Regions from separate parts of the Homo sapiens genome. Here regions 2 and 3 are each linked to region 1. Evidence: fine-mapped QTL for protein levels in blood plasma. Region 1 holds a variant in brackets. A gene starts in each other region. All regions are shown on their reverse strands.

Region 1 (5,463 bases):
GGCAGCCTGCTGGTTTTCTGTTGTTGTTGTTTTGTTTTATTTTCTGTTTTTGAGACAGGGTCTCGCTATGTCCCCAGGCTGGAGTACAGTGGTGAGATCGCGGCTCACTGCAACCTCCACCTCCCAGGCTCCAGCGATTCTCCTGTCTCAGCCTCCCAGGTAGCTGGGACCACAGGAGTACGCCACCATGCCCAGCTAATTTTGTTCTTTTATTTTTTGTAGAGATGGCGGTGGGGGAGGTAGTCTCACTATGTTGCTCAGGCTGGTCTCAAACTCCTGAGCTCAAGGAATTCGAACTCTTCCCTCCTCGGCCTCCTGAAGTGCTGTGATTACTGGAGTGAGCCACCACACCTGGCCCAGCCTGCTGGTTTTAAAGTAATACTAGAGACAGGAAGATGACCCCAAACCCCTCCTATGGCCTGAGCATCTTCCGCTCCGCTGGAACAGCCTGTGCAGAGACTGGGCAAGGAGAACCCTCACTGTACAAAGAAGGAAACTGGAGCCCAAGAGGTTAAGTAGCATGAACAGCTAAGTGGCGCCTCTCTCTTCTGTCTTCTCACTGCCTCTTGCCTTATGATTTCATACAAAGCAGCCCCTAAATGGGGAAGCACAAGACAGAGACATGGAGGAACCCAGCACAAGAGTAAAGTGAACCGTTCAGCAAACACTAAAGAAAGCTGATCCCCAGAGATAATTGCACTATTCAGCATACCTACTACTGGGATCCCTGGCTTTGCTTAATAACCAAACCTATTTAAATCCATAAGGAATTGGTTCTCTGACTTAAAGGGTGTTGTTATAACAACCATAACTTTGGCTTTTCTCTGGAGTACCAACAACTACTGGTTTGATGCAACCATTTCCCTTTTACGCAAAAAGGTGCACTAAAAGTAGACCACGCATTGTTGTGTATCATTAGGCAAGCAATTTCTCTTCTCTAGGCCTCACTTTTCCCATCTGGAAAGTAAAAGGGTCCAGTCACATGATTTCTGAAGTTCCTTACAGGGTCAGCGTCCTGGTGAGAAAACTATACTGCAGTGCCAAGAGGAATTGATGTAGGATTTTTCTTCTTGGTCCTCGGGCCAGCAATGCCCCACCTGTGCTCGCTCGGCCATGCAGGTGTGTCCCAGCTCACTGTATTATAGCTTGTACCCGCGTTCGGTGGTTCCGAGCTCGTGCACCACACCAAAGGATAATGAGGATACACTGGACATTGAAGGGAGAGGAAGGCAGATAAGAATTTTATTGAGTGTTGAAAACAGCTTTCAGCAGAGAGGGGACACCGGGTTGGTCCCCTACCTGAAGACGGAAAAGTTCCCCAATGTGGCTGGGTCAGGGGCCTTTTATGGACTCAGAATAGGGAGTGCATGCTGACCGGTTTGTGAGTATGCAAAAAAGATGAAAGCAAAGACACCACTCAAAGGTGGGCACGGCAGCGTAGAAAACCAATTAGGAAAAAGTGGGTATATGTAAAACAGGCGAAATGTAGGAATCAATTAGGGGAAAGCACGCCAAACAAGTTCTCACTCTGGTCTGAGGATTTAACTCGTAGCTTGGCTTTCAGGCTTTAAACTGTCTTTGGCCTGGAGGTGGGGGTTTCACCGGGTACCTGACCCTATCTGCCTAGGCATCCAGCTGCCTCCTGTTGCTACCAGAATCACATTGAAAGTGAAACACGCTGGAAACTCTAAGGAAAAGAAACAAGTGTAACTAGGAGATAACAGGCACAGTGCAAAACAACATGTTAACTTTGGGGAAATCCGGCTTCTCAGTGTTTTTTTGGTTTTCCTACTTCTCTGCCAAATACAAAAATAAGCAGCTACTTCCATGGGACTCTCGTTAAAAAAAAAGTAACTTTAATAAGATCAGTGAAAACAATGCTTTGTTCTCCCACAAGTGGCTCAGGAGTAGCTTGCTAAGACACACTTTCTTCCCCGTGGGGCTGATGTCAACAGCCCATGCTTTTGCCCAAACAAAGGCCTCCTGGCACAAGGATGAGAGGCAAAACATCTGAGTCTCCGTAGCTGGCCTTATTCCAATTTGAGGGGAAGGGGCAGCCAGGAGAGAAAAATAACTAAGCTTTTGAAAGGCTTGAAGGAGAGTAAGGAATTACTAAATCTATTTTTTCTCAACAGAATAAAGAATTCTTGAAAGGGATAATGGAAGGGTGCAGCTTTCTATTTGAATTACTCTTTGTTTCACCCTATTCTGCCTAAGGCCACTGCCTTTTAGGCCAATCACAGAATCCCGGTTTTGCCTTTAGTTGCCCGCTGAGCGATGCAGTGGGAGTTGGGAGACCCACACTCAAGTGTTCTCTCTGTGGCCCGTTTCACCCGGTTTAAACTTGGACAAGTGGCTGAACTCTCCGGCCTCAGCTTCCTGCCTGTAAAATGAGAAGGCTCCCTAGATGCTCTCTAGACCTTTTCAATAACAGCGGAATAGGATTGGAGGCTCTCCAGTTCCCCCCC[CG/G]GGGACAGGTTAATCTTCAGCCACACTAGCCAAGGTGAGGCAGCAGCCCGCCCGCTCAGCAGGCACACACTGGGGCGGCGGCGCCTCCATTCCTGCTCACACTGCACGCCCACAACCTGCACCAACACCATCGCCTCAGAGACCAATTCACCGCGAAACCATCTCCCCGCTGCAGATCGTGTCCGATTAACATCTGCAAAGCTGAGCTGAGCATATGTAAGCAAAGAAAAAGCAAAACAAACAAGAGTTCTCTTTTTCCGGACCTCGGAATTTCTTTCAAATAAACTCAGAACTGAAAATTGTACGTCCCCAGCTAGAATACGAGGTCTCGGCTGGCCTTGCTTGCGAAAATGCATTAACAAGCCAAAAGGGGCTAGTGACATCTGGGGTGTCTGGGCACACGGACACGGGCCTCAGAGGCAAAGAGCAAGACCGCACTGGGCGACTCGTACATTCTTCCCGCAGGCTGAGGAGGCGACCAAAATATCCCCACAGAGGCAATCGCCGGAGTGCGGGGACAATAGTGCACCCAGCACTCTCTTTTTTTGAGGGGCACCCTTAGACCCTTAACCCAACCCACATCTCTAAGAGACCTCCAGGAGGTGAAGGTGAGGGGTGGTCCACTTCACCCAAAAGAATGCGCCACGGCCGGGGACCGACTCAGCCTGGAGTAACCTTTTTGTAGCTGCTTTCTTGTTTTGGTTTCCCTTTTTAAGTCTGGCAGTTTAGTCTGATGCCCAAGCGGTACCTTTTAAATGTCTCTCTCGCCCTCTTCCAGCAAGTGGCGCCTCTAGAGCCACTCCCTCCCCCGAGGCTGAGACAATGGCCCGGCACCGCAGGGCGGCCCCTAAGGGTATGCAGTGCGTCCAGCTCTCCGGGCAGGGCGCACGTGCGTTTGTTATGGTGCCTGTGCCCCCTCCGCTGCCGCGGGCCTCAATTTGTCGATCCGTAAACCCAGACTCTGCAAGGCGCAATGCCCCCACGCCACCCCACCCCATACTGACGGTGCCGTGGAGAAATCCGTGTTCCCCGGGGCTGTGCGCACGTGGGTTTGTTGTGGATCCGCAGGCTCGCGGAGCCAGAGAGAAGCCAGGGTGGCCCTTTGGCCCTGACAAAAATGCACACACCCCCAACCAAAAGGCGGCCAGCCCCGGAGCCAAGGCAGCTGAGGCGGAGCTGGAGAGAGATTCCCTGCGCCCTACGCGCGCCGCGGGCCCCGCGCCTCCGCTATCCTCCCGCGCCCCTTTGCATCACACTCCTCCCGGGATAGCCCGGGCCGCGCCGCCGCCCACCGCACCCCCTACTCACTCGCTGCACTCTCGGCCGCGGAGGCTGCGGTTGCTCAGCACGCTCGGTGGCGGCCGCCCGCTCCGCGCCCACGCCGGTCGGTATCGGCTCCCTTTGTTAACGCCGGGCAGTGCCCCAGGCGTCTTCCCCAGCCCGGCCCTGCCCAGGACTCCCCTCCCCCAGGTGACTCCAGAAAACGCGCTCGGCAAGGGCAGGATCGCCCGGGAGCTGGGGACCCCACTAGGGAGTCTCGAAAGAGGGGTCCGCTGGGGAAGAACGGGGGACAGAAGACGCACAGTGGAAGGGACTGGAGAAGGAAGGAAGAAGAGCGCGGCGGAGGGGCGGGAAGGAAGCGAGTCGCCTCCGTATGCAAATAGAGTTGCGAAGACTGGGTCGGTCTCCGCCCCCACTCCACCTCTCGCCACCGGCCACACCGCGCCCCAAACCGGCCTGGAGGTCGCTAGCGAGCGGGCTTGGGGTTAAAGACTCTTGATGAAGGCACTGGGTGATGCTAGAATCCTGCCTGCTCTCAAGGAGGGTGGATCGAGGGCCGAGTGGGAGGGGCCACGCGGCTGCGCAAGGACCCCTAAATGCCTCTTCCCCGCTTGGCCGCGAGGGGTCAATCCAGCAGTGTCCGGCTTTTGGTCCTAACATGCGGGTGCTGTACACCCGGTCTCTGCTACCGGCTGACTGCGAGACCCTGAGGAAGTCGCTTAACCTCTCCGAAGACTCGTGTTGCTCTTATCTAGAATAGGAAAGAACAAAATCTTTCACTGCGTTTGGCATTAACCTCCTAACATTGAGGCATGACTCCTACTGGGCGCTCTCAAATGGCAAATACAGAAGGAGAGGAGCGTCCTCGAACCCCTGCACCCAGAGGCTTCCACCCCAAGCTGCAGGCTGAAAGACTGAAGCCTCAGCCTGGATGGTGAAGGGAGCGAGGTTCTTTCTTTTCACCCGGACGACGGTGGGGCTGCTGGGGAAGGAAAGAGGATTAACCAAGCTGCGTACTGACCATCCCCGATAGCCCCAAGGCGATTTCCCTAAGAAAGAAAAACTGCCCAACAGGAGGGCGGAAGGGGCCTTTAAGGCCTCCAGTCCAGCCTCCCATAGCCCAAAGAGAGGATGTGACTACCAGAGGCAATAGTCATATCCCAGTTGTCTACTGAGTGCACACTAGGCACCAGGCTGTGTGCTGGGTGGGAAAGGGGAAAGGAAGGAGATACTGGAAGGTTTGGGGGTCCTCTGGGAACACAAAGTCCAGTGCACACTTAAAGTGCCTGAAGCCCAGGCCCAGAGTTCTGTCTCCAAATGAGGTGCCTACCCCACATCACCAACCTTGGAAAGGGAAGTTACATCCGCACCCTGTCCCCAGCACCCTTCTTCCAAACACTGCTTCCTCCCTGTCCTGATCCTGGCTCCCTTCTGCTGATACTGTCATTCCCTTCCCTGCTGCCCCTGAGGCATTTTTGCTCAGTACAAAGAGCTCCAATTGAAGGGAGTGCCAGCCAGAGTGAATTCAAATCTTTATGACCAACTCGCTGTGCCTTCTTGGGTGAGTTCCACATCCTGTGAGCCTCCCTTTCCTCTTCTGCAAAATGGAGATATTAAGGAAAGCGTTGTTTTCAGGATCCTGTGAAATGACCTACGTGAAACACGTAGCTTAGTGTTTGGCATATAGAAGGTGCTCCTGACAGTAAAATGTAT
Region 2 (5,463 bases), not on the chromosome of region 1:
CAAAATCTACCACCACTGTGTCTGTCATCTGCTTGATTATCATAATGCCGAGCCTGGTTGGTATTTACCAGTTTCTCCTTGGCTGAAAGAGTGGTAAAGAGCCCAATTGTTGATCAATTCTCAGTAATACAGAAGTGAGCTTATCTGCACATTTTCCTAAGGCCTTGCTATGAACTGAATATTTGTGTATCCCCAAATTCACATCTTGAAGTCCTAATCCTCCATCTGATAGTATTTGGACATAGGGTTTTGGCTAATTATATCATGAGGGTGGAACCTTCACGAATCGGATTAGTGATCTTAAACAAAGAAGAAACAGGGGAGTGAATCTCATTCTCTCTCTCTCTCTCTGGCTCTCTCTGCCATGTGAAGATATAGCAAGAAGGAGCCCATCTGCAAACGAGAAGAGGGTCCTCTCCAGGAACCAAATCAGCTAGCAGCTTGATCTTGGACTTCTCAGCCTCCAGAATTGTGAGAAATAAATGTTTGCTGTTTAAGCCACCCAGTCAATGGTATTTGATATAGCAGCCTGAGCTAAGAATGATAGTTTAAGGTGTGTTCATCTGGTGTCCCAGATGAAGATGTGTGTGGGGGTGAGTGGGAGTAAAGAAGAAGGAATGTAAGAGAAAATTAAAGTATATGGGAATTTTGACAAGCACTTAGTAGGTGAAGAGTAAATCAGAGAGTCATAAAGTATTAGATTTGGGATGTAACAAGCCCTTCCTTTAAAGGTGAGGAAATGGGCACAGTATATGAATTGAATTGCTCATGATCACAAGATGACTTAGAAAGATGAGGAGGAAGATAAGGCACAAGAAGTGAAATTATAATTATATATTTTTAAATGTTGAGAAGATAACTGGTTTGTAATAGAGTCTTGTTTACTTTTCTTACTTGACATTTGTCACAAATTTATATTTATGGCCGATCGCAAAATATTTACAGCAGCAAGCTCTAATATGACCTTTAGGGAAGTCTTAGAAACAAGCTGAAGATTGGAATGAACTATAAGACTCTGGGACAAAGTCAGGGATGTATAATAATTTTACACTGAATTCTGAGTTCAATGTGTTCCTTTCTCCAAACAGCAGCATTCTGTCACTCATTATGTCAAGACTCTCCTTGAATTCTGTTAATAATGGAAGAAATGAAGAGGAGAAGGGGATATGAAAGAGCATCACAGGACAAAGCCATCTCTATATTGGGGTTACAGCTTCAACCAAGGGAAAGTGTGAGAGATCTGGAAGGAAAACAAAAGAATATGGGCCATAGCAAGATATTGTTCTCAAGGGCATAATGACCTCTATGATCTCTCTCAAGTTGGAGAAGTTCTAGTCCCATTTCACACTGTTCTAGTTTCAGGTAACAACAATGAAAATTGAACTAGCTTAAGGCAAAAGGGGACATGAACAACTAACCCACAGGAAGAGCTTGAATATTCTCCAGATCCATCTGAGATTTTGATTCTTTCAAACAGTAGCTTCATTCTTACCACGGCCTGGTTATTCCTATATAGAAGGAAAGAAAAACTAGATGTGGAGTTTTAGATCTCAAAAGCTATCCATGAAAGACTGGATATAAACTCTTTATTTCATTTACAAAAACTGCCAGATAAAGGACTCAGTGGAAGTCCCATCCAATTAACAGTGAGCAAGGCATTTTACTTGGTTCAACTTGGTGTTTTGAGTGATCCAACTTAGAGCCAGGGAGTGGGAGTTGTTGTAGCACGGAGGTAGATCCAAGTTAAACATGTAGAACTGAGGAAAGGGCTGTTTCTGGAAAATGGGCACTCAGCAGGTAATTCCAGGTATTCATCCGTGGCTTGCTAAGTAACACATTGTGTTACCCACATAATTTTTATGCAGGTTCTGAGTAACAGCAACACATTCTAGTTAGGTCCCCTAATAGGGATTTATTATCAAGCTATATGGAAAAGTAAAGAAATACAGAGATTCATCTTGGCCTCTAACAATCCAAGTATCATGTCCTTTCTACATCAGCTAGTAAATATTCCCTACTCTGGTATTTGTTTCTTATAATGACTTAGATGAGATGGGAAGCAAATGAGGGTAGACACTGAAATAACTGATTCTTGACTTGAGCTCATGGCTTCTTTCTCATCCTTTGGCTTGCCCATACAGGGTACTACCTTCCTGTCTACATTTCAAATTATCTGAGCTGGAATCTGATTGGGTAGACAAGGCACCATCAAATATATCATGCTTTTTTTGGCAAAAGCTTTGATGTCAAATCATTTTATAGGCTGCTGTTCAGATACCCATCTGTGGCCACATATCTAAAATTGTTGTTTCAATGTTAGAATGAGTAAAATGGGGATCAAGGCAGAACAAACAGAATTAGAGGGAAACTGTGGGTATGTTGGGTAATGTAATAGGTGAATCCTTGTATGGGCTGTTTAATATCCACAAAAATATATACTAAGTGTTTTTTTAAACCAATGAATATTAATGGAAAATCCTCCTTTGTCAAGAATTATTCTAGAAGATATGGGTGAGAGCAGGGCATATAGAAGATATTCTGTTATAGAAAAGCTATAAAATTGACAGGGGAACAAAAACTAACATAATTGGCACAACTATAAAAAAATCCAAAATATTCAGGCCATGAAGTTTTTGCCCTACAATTTAAGCGAAAATATGCAACTCATTTATTCACTTTGTCTTTTTTTTCTTTTTCTTTTTCTCTCTTTTTTTTTTTCAGAGATAGGGTCTTGCTCTATCTCCCAGGTTGGAGTGCAGTGGCATGATCATAGCTCACTGTAACTATTAACTCCTGGGCTCAAGCAATTCTATCCCATCTCAGCCTCCCAATAGCTAAGACTACAGGTGTGCACCACCATACCCAGCTCATTAAAAAAAAAAAAAAAAAAAGGTAGAGTTGAGGTCTCACTATGTTGCCCAGGTTGGTCTGGAACTTCTGGCCTCAAGGGATCCTCCCACTTCAGCCTCCCAAAATGCTAGAATTACAAGCATGAGCCACCACACCTGGCCCATTCCTTCACTTCGTGCAACATAATTGCCATCAGAAACCAGACTTTTTTTTTTTTTTTACTACAGAGACTTAAACTTTTACAAAAGGAAGATGTTTTTCTCATTTAAATTGTCATTCTAGGGACAGAAAGTAAGTTTTGAAAAGAAGTAGCTTTTATGGAAGAGAGGTGCCTGAGAATTTCAAAAGGATTTAAGACAAGGGGAATGAGAAGAGATTGAATGAAAGAAGAGAAAACAGAGAGAAAGAGTAATTAAAAAAAAGAAAAGAAAAGAAAACAAAGATAATCCCAAAGAGCAGTGTGCACAGTTTTGCTGCAATCAGTACCATTCTGGTCAAGTCTCCGTCATCTGCTCTAGGCTTAGTTCCTCTCTGCCCTAGGCTGCTTCTGGTAAAACCGCACGCTCAGCTTGTTGGGCGTCTTCATGGAGCCTGTTATTTGCTGTGGGTCTAAGAAAGGGAAAGCTTCAGGCTTCAGGCATCTGTACCTCCTATCTGTTCTCAGCTCCATGGAAATTCTTAAGGGATGGGGCTATAGATAAGAGAGTGGGAAATGGAGATCAAGGTCTCAAATGAAAGGCAGGGTGGTTTGATTTTTAAGCTCCCCTGATACTTTTTATTTATATATTTGCTGCTTCTAGAAAAACCAAAAAAGGAAAGTGATTCATACATAGAATGCCTGTACAAATAGCAAACCAATAACTACCCCCAGCAGATTCTGGCCCTTGCCAGGGTGCGGTTTCAGAGCTGTAAAAGGCAAGGGATATGTACATTGAAATGACCCAGTCCCAGAATATTTTAGATTCAGAAAAGGTCAGAGACTTTCGTAACTAGCAATGACCTCCAGATTAGGGACCATGAATGTGCAGAGTGAGGACAAGGAAGGGGCCTAAAGCTGGGTCTACTGTAGAATAAACAGAATCATTTAAGGTTAATTATGTTCTGATGTGGCCTCCTTAAATTCTTTCAGGCTGGGGACAATTTCTAGCCCTTTAAGATCAAATCAGTGGCTTTGGACTAGAATCTGCTTAATAAGAATGAACTCCAAAGGTGAAAAAAAAACATAAAATCTAAAAATCAAAGGATATGCCTTTATAAATGTGAAAGTTTAGTTTGGCTCAATGTTGGTCAGTTTAGAAATGTGGGAGTAATCGGAGAGATGGCATAACTGGGGGCGGGAGGCGGGGCGGTGATTATACCCCTACCACTACCTAATCCTCAGGGGCTACCAGTTACTTGCTGTACACACTTTTAAAGTACTTTCTAATTGTGGACCATGAGTGGCAGAGTACTGCGGGCGGAGGCTTTTTGCTGAAAGCAACATTGACTTTTATTTCTAGGGAAAGTCTTGTCTGTAGATGAGCACCGTGGGGCAACGGAGAAAATGCTGACTTTCTTGTTTAAAAAAAAAAAAAATTTCCGTAAGCGGCCCTCCAATGGTCCGTCCACTCAGCAGGCCAGCTGTCCCAGGCCTCTGCCAGGGAGGGAAGACGAGTGCTTCAGTGCATGGCTTCGGTGAGCCCTTTAAATCCAGCTTCCCCTGCCCCCACCAAGAGGCTCCCTTTCCCTGACAGGTGTTTTCCCAACTCCGGAGGCCCAGGATTTTGGGGAGTGGCTGAGCCAATAAGATTTCCCTTTGGAAGGGGGGGGGAAGGGCGTGGCTAGTTGGGTCAGAGCATGGGCGGGGTTTGCGCGGCTGAGCAGAGCCGGCCTGGTTGCGTGGAGGGTTGTTTTATTCCCACCGCCCCCCGCACCTTTTTTTTTTTTTTTTCTGGAGTCTTATTAATTTCTCTGTGGGCTGCAGCTGGAGACCGCGGAGCGCTGGAAATGACGCTCGGAGCTTTAATTACCGCAGCCGCCGGACAAGTGTGAGGAAAGCTGAGAGGAAAAAGAAGGACGGGATCCGGGGAGAAGCGAGAAGCTCCCCCCGCCCCGCTCCCCTCCCGATTTGGACTGGAGGTGCAAGGAAACTGAAGAAGGAGCAGAACATAGCCCGGCTGCGGGGAGAGGCCGGAAACCTACCGCCTCTTTGCAATCAACTTTTTTTGGAAACCTTTCGCCCCCCTTCCTTTTTTATTGTTGACCAACCAGTGAGAGAGAGAGAAAGTGAGGAGGGAGCGAGCAAGCGAAGGCTCACGCGGGGAAATAGCTGCACAGTCCGGCCCAGAGCGCCAAGCGCACACACCGAGCACACTCCCACACGCGCACACACGCGCTCACACTCGCCCCCTCCTCGGGCCCCGGCCCTGGACCCGCGGGCGCGGACTCGGTCGCCCGCCCTGGGAGTCGCCACACCGCGCGCGCCGCGCCCGCCCCCCTCGCACCCCCACGCGCGCCCGGCTGGGGGATCTCCTCCGCGTGCCCGAAAGGGGGATATGCCATTTGGACATGTAATTGTCAGCACGGGATCTGAGACTTCCAAAAAATGAAGCCGGCGACAGGACTTTGGGTCTG
Region 3 (5,463 bases), not on the chromosome of region 1:
GCAAAAGCACTGAGCACAGTGTCTGACCCAAGAGAAGTGCTCAGTGGGTGATTGTTCTCAGCATTATTAAGATCAAGTCTCCTACCCATGTTTGAAAGTTAAGAGAGAAAAGTGTTTCAGGCTGGTTGTGGTGGCTCATGTCTGTAATCCCAGCACTTTGGGAGGCCGAGGCAGGCAGATTACCTGAGGTCAGGAGTTCGAGACCAGCCTGGCCAATGTGTACAAAAAAAACACAAATTAGCCGGGCATGGTGGTATGCACCTGTAATCCCAGCTACTCGGGAGGCTGAGGATTCAAGGATTCAAGAGAATCACTTGAACTTGGGAGGTGGAGGTTGCAGTGAGCCAAGACTGAGCCACTGCACTCCAACCTGGGTGACAGAGCAAGACTCCATTAAAAAAAAAAAAAAGAAGAAGAAAAAGAAAGAAAGAAAGAAGAGTGTTTCAAGAGCGAAGTGCTGAGAGATTAAGGTTCGTTCAAAAACAAATATTTATTGTGCACTGTCCTAGAGGTAAGATAAAGAGAAAAATATTGATTGAATTTGGTAACATGGATGTCTTTGGTGAACTTGATGAGCAACAGAGCAGGAAATTATGGCCACTGACAACTTGTTATACTCACAGATCCCAAGAGAAGGGGACACACCACACTGGGCAGAGGGGCTGAAGGGAGAGGAAGAGCTGCTGGGAAGTACCAGGGTCGGTCAGGAAGCAAAGAGAGCAAGGGAAAAGGCAGGAAAGAGCCTTTATTGTAGTTTCTGCAGGAAGGAATGGGAGAGGCAAGGTAAGCAGATTTAGGATTGGCTTAGTTTGAATAATTTCAGAGACCTCTGGGCCATAGGAGTTGTCTCTAGTTGTCTGGTACCTGGTCCCTTGGGGTGATCTAAAGCAGCAAGTAGTGACCCTAAGTGTAAAAGCCCCAAAAAGGAGGCCAAGGGTTGGGGGTATGTGGTCTGGATTGATTGATTTGCAGTCGGAAAGGCACATTCACAGATAAGTCGTTTTTGATCTCTAGTAATTATTGAGCCCTGGGAGGGGCAGTCCCTCCATGATCAGTAAGGCCCCAAAATGTACAAGCACCAAATACAGAAACTAGAAAGCATGGTGATTACACTTATGAATAGATTCCAACCCAAACTCCCCATTTTCCTGCCCAAGTCTTTGTCAAGAAAACTCCAGAAGCCACCTGGGGTCACTGTCTTTAATCCTTTGAAGACACCCATAATAAGGTTTAGACAAGGCCTCATGAAAAAGGTATAGGATAAAAACGACTAGTTCAGAAAAAAAAAAGTAAATAAATGAAGAGATAACTTCCCTTTTCATCAAAGAATTGCAAAAATGAACAATAATGAGATCGTTTCCACTTATCCTTTTGGCAAAGATGAAAGCAAGTTACCAATGCTCAGAACTGGTGAGTAGTGTTGGTGGGATTGTAAACCAATTTATAATAATTCTCTGGGGTGCTGTTTGGGAAGAGGAGTCAATATTCCTACAGCTGTGCTACCTCTTTGACCCAGAATTTCCACTCCTTGGACATAATCCTGAGGAGATGACAACACCAGTGCCAGTGGTTACCCTACCACTGAGTGGGACAGGATGGAGAAATGTCCTGAAAAGAGCAATTCACAATAGCAAAGACTTGGAACCAACTCAAATGTCCATCAATGATAGACTGGATTAAGAAAATGTGGCACATATACACCGTGGAATACTATGCAGCCATAAAAAATATGAGTTCATGTCCTTTGTAGGGACATGGATGAAGATGGAAACCATCATTCTCAGCAAACTATCGCAAGGACAAAAAACCAAACACCGCATGTTCTCACTCACAGGTGGGAATTGAACAATGAGAGCACTTGGACACAGGAAGGGGAACATCACACCCAGGGGCCTATTGTGGGATGCGGGGAGCGGGGAGGGATAGCATTAGGAGTTATACCTAATGTAAATGACAAGTTAATGGGTGCAGCACATCAACATGGCACATGTATACATATGTAACAAACCTGCACGTTGTGCACTTGTACCCTAAAACTTAAAGTATAAAAAAAAAAAAGATCAATGCAGTGATCATGGTGATATTTTCCTGCTCAGCCCAAGTTCACACATATTTTATTTTTCTCAACATGATGACAGCCACTCTCACACTGACTTTTGGAATGTCATGTATGTTGAACTGGGTCTGAAGACATGGTTTTAACTCAGGCTCTGTCATTTTCTACCTCAGTGATTGCACAACAGCAAAGCAGAATTTTCACTACTTCCATGAATATAATCATTACTATATGACTTTACTTGCATCATCTCCTTTGGTTACTATTACTACTGTGGGAGATGGGTATTCTCATTTTATAGACAAGGAAATTGACCTCTGGACCTCAGGAAGGTTAAGAAATGAGCCCACTGCCACACAATAAACACCAGATAAAGGAGGCAGACTGACTCCAAAGTCAGTCTATTTAAGTGCAAATTTATTTCGCCTCCAAAGGGACCTCCCAGTCATCAGACCTGATTCTTTGTTGTACAGAGTGGGTCAGGTCCAGTGATGTCTGAACTACCTTCTGGTTCTGACTTTCAGCCATTCTCAGCTCCTCTCTTGCTTGTGTCTGGATTCTAAGGCTGATCTCATGAGAATGGGTGTTTCAGAAGGGTGCCCTCTCCAAGACAGGTGCACCTCCCATCTGGGGCAGTGAATATCCCTTTTGTCCTTATGCAGCCTGGCTTCAGATACTGGCTTCTGCCTGGCTCCTTGATCCCACCCTGCCCTTGTCAGTGACCAAGAAGAAGCCCAGCACCTTGGCACTGCTTTCCCAGTTAATTTCTAACTATGGAATCTCTTGCTGTTAGAAGGTGCGAAACAGTGACCTTGTATTTCCGGGCACAGGTGTGACCCCCCAATGTCAATCATTTGGGGTCTCTAGCTATTAGGAAAAAGAACAACAACAACCTCACAGCTTGGACAAGGCAAACATTATGCCAGGAGGAAAAAATATTCCACCCCCAAGAAAACAATATCAAAAAACAGAACTAGAGACTAATTGGAGGAGAGATTGCCAGCCTGGGGCAAATGTGTATATATAAGTATGAGGCACATCATGACCAGACTAACTCTACCTTTCTGGCTTCAGGTAAGGCTATCTGTAGCTGTCTTCTCCTAGCCCAGCTTCTCCCCATCCTATTTGAGGGAGGTAGGAGAGGAAATTAAGACCTTGGACACTGGGGTCAGACCTGGATTTGAGTCATTATTCTGCCAATTATTGGCTTCATGATCTTTAGTAAGTTAGTTTTCCTCTCTTTGATCCTCTCTGTCCTAGTAACAATGACTACTATTTTTTGACTTATTCCATGAATATTAGTTATGCACCTATTATGTGCCAGGTACCAGGGTTACAACAATGAACAACTTGCTATGTGCTGGGCCCTGCTCGACATATGTCATCTTAGTTAATCCCAGTGACAATATGCAGTGTTTTAGGTCGCATCTTATTAGCGGGTCATAAAATCATTCCTTTTGTGGGTTATATCCAGGGACTTCTTTTAATTAAATATAATAGAATATGTCAGTAAGCAATACAAATTTGAGGCAAGCAGTTAGCCTCTTTGTCCCCCTGTTTTCTCATCTGCAAACTAGGATAATACTTATCTCATAGGGTTGTGGTAAGAATTAAATCACTTAATGTAGTAAGGATATCAATTGTCTTATAAAATTTTATGTGTGTGTGCACATACATGCAGAAGCGACTGCACTAGATCATGACATAAAATGTTTTTCTTTCTTTCTGTCTTTTTTTTTTTGGGGGGGGGGGATGGACTCTCTGTCACCCAGGCAGGAGTGCAGTGGCACGATCTCAGCTCACTGCAACCTCTGCCTCCCAGGTTCAAGCAATCCTCCTGTCTCAGCCTCCCGAGTAGCTGGGATTACAGGCGCCCACCACCATGCCCGGCTAATTTTTGTATTTTTATTAGAGATGGGGTTTCACCATGCTGGCCAGGCTGGTCTCAAACTCCTGACCTTGTGATCCACCCCCTCAGTCTCCCAAAGTGTTGGGATTACAGGCATGAGCCACTGCACCTGGCAACATAAAATGTTTTTCTTTTAGTACATCATGGTCACGAAGATCTGGAAAACGTTGCTCTAGGACCCAATGCCTTTGAGCACATGAATGTCTTTGAACTGAGCCTGGCCCATCATAGATATTCAGTTTGTGAAAGCAACAATCTCCATTTCACAGACAAAAACGGAGACTTAGTAAACTGAAATACCCACATCACAGTGTTAGTGATCAGTAAAGCAGGGATTTGAACCTCAGGTGCAGGCTGCAGCTCCTACATACTTAACCAACATGCCACCCTATTTTGCTGCTATAAACACTGGGGTAATACTGGCATCCACCCTGGACTATTTTTCCAATTGGAAGAAATAGTAAGTGACCACTCCAGAAACATTTAAATGCATTGTGAAGGTTAATTACCTCTCAAGTTGCTCGTCTCAAGCCACTTCTTTACGATATGTGAGTTGCATGAAGGAGCAGACTGCCATGTTCATTGTTCTCCATGGTGACTAGCTCCCTGTTTGGCACAATGTAGCTACTCAATAGATGTTTGTTGAATGAATAAGTGATCCAGGCAAATTGAAAGTTTCCAGGCAGAGGATCAGTTAAAATCCAAAGCTGCCTTCAGTAAAGTGGTGAGTCCAGAACACTATTCCATCTGGCTACTTCCTGCTCCAAATGACTGAGTTCTTCAAAATGTGCAATGTGCTGAGAATTGGGGAGCCAAGACTGGGATGTTGGTGAGGTAAGGAGGGGGAGTACAAGGGGTAAAGTCCCAGCAAAACAAGGGCTGCAGTGTTATGCAATTTTTTAGTCCATATAAGTGACACCTCCTGGAGTTGTATACTATACAATCAAAGCACTCCTTCCAGCTGTGGGGAGGAGAGTTAGATCATGCATTTGTCCCATCCATCTCTGTTCACAGGACACCAGACATCAGAGACAGAGAGAAAAATTCAAAGGGCCAACCCGTCTTTCCTTTGGGCAGGTGCTATCTAGACCTGAAGTAGCGGGAAGAGCAGAAAGGATGGGGCAGCCATCTCTGACTTGGATGCTGATGGTGGTGGTGGCCTCTTGGTTCATCACAACTGCAGCCACTGACACCTCAGAAGCAAGTAAGTGAAAAGTGTGTGTGCGTTGTATATGTGTGTATGCACGTGTATGTGTGAATGTGTGGGGGAAGCAATGTAGCACCTGTCAGAGGTGATCTCAATCCTCCTATCGCACTTGAGACTTGCATTGTCTTCATTCTAAGTCCATTTCTTAGACTCAATATGCACAGGACTGACTTAGAAATTTTGCTAAAGTGCATATTCTGGTTCAGCAGATCTGCAGTAGGACCTGAGATGCTGAATTTTTAACAAGCTTCCAGGCGATGCTCATACTGGGGTCCCTGGAGTACACATTGA

Direction of the effects. Alleles are on the strand shown, and positions count from the first base shown. The strength of an association depends on the size of the effect and on how common the allele is.
For the plasma level of the protein whose gene starts at base 5,163 in region 2, G is the high allele of the variant in region 1 and CG is the other (weak association).
For the plasma level of the protein whose gene starts at base 3,104 in region 3, G is the high allele of the variant in region 1 and CG is the other (weak association).

The links. PIP is the posterior inclusion probability: the model's chance that the variant is causal. Protein levels are from antibody-based Olink assays in UK Biobank. Linkage for the fine-mapping came from a reference panel and not from the study's own genotypes, which makes the PIPs less certain.
Region 2: it holds the start of ERBB4, and the variant in region 1 is fine-mapped to the plasma level of the ERBB4 protein (UK Biobank, PIP above 0.99).
Region 3: UMOD starts here. The variant in region 1 is fine-mapped to the plasma level of the UMOD protein (UK Biobank, PIP above 0.99).

Annotation. Positions count from the first base shown.
Region 1 is chr3:186,929,149-186,934,611 of GRCh38, reverse strand. It overlaps ST6GAL1 (ST6 beta-galactoside alpha-2,6-sialyltransferase 1), which reads right to left and starts at 4,086. Exons shown (of 8, transcript NM_173216.2): 1 at 3,778-4,086. RefSeq lists enhancers at 1,640-1,699, 1,720-1,769, 3,863-4,471 and silencers at 3,666-3,855, 4,096-4,175. The variant CG/G (reference allele first, on the strand shown) is at 2,469.
Region 2 is chr2:212,538,502-212,543,964 of GRCh38, reverse strand. It overlaps ERBB4 (erb-b2 receptor tyrosine kinase 4), which reads left to right and starts at 5,163. Exons shown (of 28, transcript NM_005235.3): 1 at 5,163-5,463. The coding sequence starts at 5,435.
Region 3 is chr16:20,350,356-20,355,818 of GRCh38, reverse strand. It overlaps UMOD (uromodulin), which reads left to right and starts at 3,104. Exons shown (of 11, transcript NM_003361.4): 1 at 3,104-3,130; 2 at 4,980-5,169. The coding sequence starts at 5,082.